Regions from separate parts of the Homo sapiens genome. Here region 2 is linked to region 1. The links come from fine-mapping of genetic effects on gene expression. A gene starts in region 1. The other region holds a variant in brackets. All regions are shown on one strand. Distances are from middle to middle.

What was found. PIP is the estimated chance that this variant, and not a neighbour inherited with it, causes the effect.
Region 2: its variant is fine-mapped to the expression of PFN2 in fetal neocortex (Walker 2019, PIP 0.95).

Annotation. Positions count from the first base shown.
Region 1 is chr3:149,969,502-149,972,414 of GRCh38, reverse strand. PFN2 (profilin 2) reads left to right here and starts at 1,520. Exons shown (of 3, transcript NM_053024.4): 1 at 1,520-1,690. The coding sequence starts at 1,559. It overlaps LOC646903 (a long non-coding RNA gene), which reads right to left and starts at 1,136. Exons shown (of 1, transcript NR_036538.1): 1 at 1-1,136. RefSeq lists enhancers at 257-787, 788-1,319 and silencers at 1,165-1,224, 1,455-1,534, 1,745-1,984, 1,995-2,044, 2,065-2,324.
Region 2 is chr3:149,299,812-149,302,724 of GRCh38, reverse strand. All of the region lies in intron 1 of TM4SF18-AS1 (TM4SF18 antisense RNA 1), which reads right to left. Among named protein-coding and RNA genes, the nearest start is that of TM4SF18-AS1, 16 kb to the right of the region's middle. The variant C/T (reference allele first, on the strand shown) is at 1,670.

The sequences.
Region 1 (2,913 bases):
GGGGGTTTCTTTTACTGTACTTTTTTTCTCTCTAGTAGCTGAACATTTTAAAGCAATCAGCAGAAAAAATATAAAACTTCAGAACCAATTAGACTTTTAAAAGCAACGTTCTTGCCCTTTCCAGAGATACATTCCTTAATCCTCCTACAAATCATGACCTCACACGATAACTTTAAGGGTGAACATCAACTTATCTACATTTTGGTGCTTTCTTTCCCTTAAGTGGCAGATGGTTTCTATTAACCTAAAATTGAAGTCATTGTTGGGGGACCCCTAATTCCATGTCTAGTCCTAGTGCCCAGAGGCTACCAAAGACGATACGAATAGCTTCTCAGGCACTCTACCCACCGTTTACCTTGTTAATACAAATCTTTCCCAGACCTGGGTCCCGAAATTATTTTACCCTGCAGAGCAGAAATGTTACGGTGTTCATTCAGTGAACTCTTCCCTAGTTTTTAATCTTTGTATTTTCTGCGTATACTTCAAGCCACCAGTAACTTTCCCAGTTACCAAGAAACAGTGTAACACAGGTCGCTATTTGTTTTGTTCGGAATTTACGAGCAATTTAACCACACGTGATTAGCAACATTAAGGGGGCTCCTCCAGGCAAAGAATCCACAGAATGAGAGGCCCTTGGTACCCAAATGAAGCAACAATGAAAGATCGGCGAAGCTCAGCAAGGTTCCTGAGCGCCACGGACGCCTGCTCTGATTTCAGGTTGCCGGCGCGCGCCCGCGGGTCTGCCTTTATGGACGAGGCGCAAGAGGGATCCAGGAAAGACGGTGCCCTTAGAGACTCGGAGATTAGCGTGGGCAACCCTGCCACCAGCTGCCCCTGCCACCAGCCGCCCCCACAACAAAAAGGAGGAAACGCTCCGCATCCCGTCACCAGGACAACTCTGTAACCCGACACCGAGGCTCAAGATTCCGCATCCCGGGCAGCGAACACAGGAGAAAAGCACATCGCGGCCCGGCCGCGGGGCTCCAAGGCGTCCGTGCCGCCGCTGTTCCTGGGGTGCCGAGAGCGACGCGGGGTCCACCCTCTCCGCCGGCCCGAGGTCCGAAGCTCGGCCCGCCACCGCTCCCGGCCGGCGCCTCCCGCACGTGGCGGCCGTGATTGTCCCGGGGCGGTATCCCTCCGCGCCCCCGCCTCAGTCTCCCCCCGCCCTTCCCGGGACCCTCCGTGCCCGGGCGCCGCGGAAGGATCGCACGCACGCGCGCGCGCACGCCCAGCCGTGTCCGCGGAAAACGGAGGGCGCTGCGGTAAGGAGCAGCCGCCACAGGCACAGCCGCTTCGCAGCCTCCCGCCGCTGGTTTGTCAGCCCCGCGGCTGCGGGCGGCCGGGCGGCCGAGCGCGCTCTGAGGTTCGTCCCTCATCGCTGAACCCGCGTCCTCCCGCCGCAGCTCCTCGGGGAGGGGGGCGGTCGGTGCCTGCGCAGAGCCGCCTCCTCCCCGCCCCCGCCCCGCCTCCCCCCGCGCCGCCGCCGCCCGCTACCGCCGCCGCCGCCGCTGCGCCTGCTGCTCCTCGCCGTCCGCGCTGCAGTGCGAAGGGCTCGAAGATGGCCGGTTGGCAGAGCTACGTGGATAACCTGATGTGCGATGGCTGCTGCCAGGAGGCCGCCATTGTCGGCTACTGCGACGCCAAATACGTCTGGGCAGCCACGGCCGGGGGCGTCTTTCAGAGCATTACGGTGAGGACCAGTGGCGGCCGGTACCCTGGTCCCTGCACCGGAGCGGGGTGGCCGGCCGCGGGGGCACCGCAGCGCGGGGCTGGAACACTGAGGGCCGAGCCCGCAGGTGTGCTAGGCAGCGGGCGCCGAGGATGCGGCTGCCGGGCGGGCGGGGAGGCCGAGGCCCGGGGACGCCCCCTCACCCGGGGCTGCGCTGACAGGCTGGGGGCGGCGGCCGGACTCCTTGCTGGCCCTGGCCGGGCGCCCCCGGCGTTCCCAGCGTCGGTCCAGGTGCCCGGGTTGGGGGAGGGGGCACGCACCGGCCAGGGCAAGGGGAGGGGTTCCTTTTTTCCTCCTAGTGCGGTTCCCCTAGGTTCTCTTGAAGCCCTGAGGTTTGCTATGCACGTTCTGGGGTGGAAGCGGGGGTCGGGGATCCGGGCTGGGGCGCGCGGGCCCCGGGTGGAGGTCCCTAGGCTCTCTGGCCGGCTCTTGCTCCGCGGACAGCGCGCCTCCCGCGCCTCCGGCTGTGGGAGGCGGCGGCCCCGGCCCGGCCCCCGGGATTCTCGAAGCGACTTTGCGTAGGTTTACCGATGTCCAGGCCTCTGGGGCTTGCGAGAGATGTACGCCGACCGCGTAGGTGGATTCGTGAATCTCGACTTCAGCTCTAGCTCTATAGGTTGTTTTTTTTTTTTTTTTAAATTCTCCAAGATGGCGAACTGCCATTGATTTCTCTTCTCATATGGAGATTCATCGATATACGGTTATCCCCAGTTATGCAACATAGCTCAAAAAAGGGGTGCTTTTCGGGGGCTTTCAATTATCTGCGAAGACCAGGAGCACACTTCACTTCTCTAAGTCCCTCCCTCTTTAGTGGTGGCAGTAAAGGAACTAATGCAGTTTTATGCTTCACATTGCCTGATTTTCTTGAGACTTGATGGTTTTGAGTTGGTTGCAATATGTTTGGAGAATATTTGCCACAAAACCTCCAGCTTATTGTTTTGCCTGTTTCTGCCCAAGGCTGTTTCTAAAATTATGATAATTGTACTAAATACGAGACCATTCTCTTTATTTCTTAGCACCACGCTCCCTTTCCATTAAGCACCAAAATTCAGGTCCCCTATTAAGGGTGCTAATTATTCTTTTACCACTTAACATGGTTTAAAGTCTAACTTTAGAACTCAGTCCTTGATAGTAGTACTTTAAGGTCTCGTATACCCGCAGTGGACTACAATTCTTGTAGGGAA
Region 2 (2,913 bases), 670 kb after region 1:
GATATTCCACATTCACGGACTGGAAAACTAATATTGTTAAAATGTTCATACTGCCCAAAGCAATCTACAGATTCAGTGTAATCCCTATCAAAATACCAATGACATTCTTCACAGACATAGAAAAAAAAAAACAAACTTAAAATTTATAAATCACTAAAGACTCAGAATAGCCAGAACTATCCTGAGCACAAAAGAACAAAACTGGAGGAATCACATTACCTGACTTCAAATTATACTACAGAGCTGTAGTAACTAAAATAGCATGGTACAAGCATAAAAACAGACACATAGACCAATGGAACAGAACAGAGAACCCAGAAACAAAATGATACATCTACAGTGAACTCAGTTTCAACAAAAGTACCAAGAACATACATTGGGGAAAGGACAGTCTCTTCAATAAATGATGCTGGGAAAACTGGATATGCATATGCAGAAGAGTGAAACTAGAATGATATCTCTCACCATATACAAAAATAAAATAAAAGTGGATTAAAGATTTAAATCTAAGAACTAAAATTATGAAACTACTAAAAAATATTGGGGGAAACTCTCCCCCCAGAATATTGGACTGGGCAAAGATTTCTTGTGTAATATTCCACAAGCACAGGCAACCAAAGCAAAAATGGGCAAGTGGGATCACATCAAGTTAAAAACCTGCTGCATAACAAAGGAAACAATCAACAAGGTGAAAAGACAACCCACAGCATGGGAGAAAACATTTGAAAAGTACCCATTTGACAGAGATTAATAACCAGAATATATAAGGAGTTCAAACAACTCTATAGGAAAAAATCTAATAATCTAATGTTTTAAATGGCCAAAAGGTCTGAACAGACATTTCTCAAAAGAAGAGATACAAATTGCAAACAGGTATATAAAAAGATGCTCAACATCATTGATCATCAGAGAAACATAAATCAAAACTACAGTGAGATATCATCTCATTCCAGTTAAAATGGTTTTTATTCAAAAGACAGGCAATAACAGATGATGGCAAGGATGTGGAGTAAAGGGAATCCTCATACACGGTTGGTGGGAATGTAAATTAGTACAAGCACTATGGAGAACCGTTTGGAGGGTCCTCAAAAACTAAAATAGAGTCACCATATGATCCAGCAAACCCACTTCTAGGTATATACCCAAAAGAAAGGAAATCAGTATATCGAAGAGATACCTACAGCATTGTTCACAATAGCCAGGACTTGGAACCAACCTAAGTGTCCATAAACAAACAAATGGATAAAGAAAATGTTACATATATTTTTAAAAAGAATGAGATCCTGTCATTTGCAACAACATGGATGGAACTGGAGGCCATCATGTTAAGTGAATTAAGCCAGGCACAGAAAGACAAACTGTACATGTTCTCACTTATCTGTGGGAGCTAAAAAGTGAAACAATTGAATTCACAGGGATAGAGGGCAGACGGATGGTTACCAGAAGCTGGGAAAGGTATTGGGGCAGGGGTAGTGGAGAGCAAGTGGGGATTGTTAATAGGTACAAAAAATGGTTAGAAAGAATGAATAAGACCTACTATTTGATAGCACAACAGGGTGACTATAGTCAGTAATAATTTAATTGTACATGTTAAAATAATGAAAAGAGTACAACTGGATTGTTTATAACACAAAAGATAAATGCTTGAGGTAATGGATACCTCATTTAC[C/T]CTAATGTGATTATTATGCATTGCATACTTGTGTCAAAATATCTCATGTACCCCACAAATATATACACCTACTATGTACCCACAAAAACTAAAAATAAATTTTTAAAAATTCCTTCTGTAAAAGTACAAAACAGCTCTTATTACAGTATGACATGTTTTTAGCATCATGATATTGGAAGTCCACTTCCAAGAAGAAAAACTACGTTTTTCAGATGAATTACCCTGTCAGCTGAAGAATCACAAGGTTCATACATTTGGAAAGGACAGCTTTATTTCTCACAAAAGGCTGCAACCTGCAGGGTGGCCATTCTGACACGCTGGGAAGTGTAACCTCTGGCCAGAAGCCAGAAACAGGCACTTCAAGGTAGTGCTGAAAGAAACGGGAATTTATGCTGAGCAGAGTGGCTGAAAATACCTTTTTATTAGGCTGTAGGAGGAGTCATGAATATTTATTAAAGGAGAAACATGTGCTTCACAATTGAGCTTTATGCCTCTTCATGAATTCCCTGTACAAAAAATTGTGGCATTAGCATGATCTGAGAGTGGAGTTTTCAGCCCCCTAATGTCAAAAGATGAAGGGGAGGACACAAATGCCCTGGCTGTGCACCCTGCATAGATTGGCCAGAACCACTTCATGGTTGTTGGTCTCTTATCAGGAAGGGATTTATGGTTTAACTGGTGAGCTGTCATGTTGAAACTGCAATGTGGGAAAGGGAGTCCTGTGGCAGCCTCAGAGGACTGGCTAAAGTTGACAAAGTAATGAGTCATCCATTTCTCATTTTCCAGAGCTGGTTTCTGCTTACTTACGCCTTAGGAAAGAATTCTGGTTAAAGGTTAGAAGGAATGGGGCATACTGAGGCATGTTCGACCTGCTAGCCCATCATGGCCAGGAACTCAGTTTCTAAGGTTTCTCTGGAGTCCCCTGGGCCAAGAGATGGTGTGTTCAGTCAGTTGGAGAAGCTTAGGACTTTATTTTTATTTCTCAACCCATATTAAAGAATTGATTCTATTAACCTCAAAAGTCAAATACTCATACATAAAGTCCTTGAAAAGGCTCATTCAGAATCACATGCTTATGCGTAAATTTCTCTGATTAAGGCTTCTTTGTTTAAAGAGCCAACATTCAAGGAAAAAGTTTTAAAACTATTCCATAATTTTTACAATTTTCTTAGTTGTCAGATTTGTATCTGCATTGTCTTCTATGATTTTTACTATAAATATAATTACATGAGAATGGAGTGTTT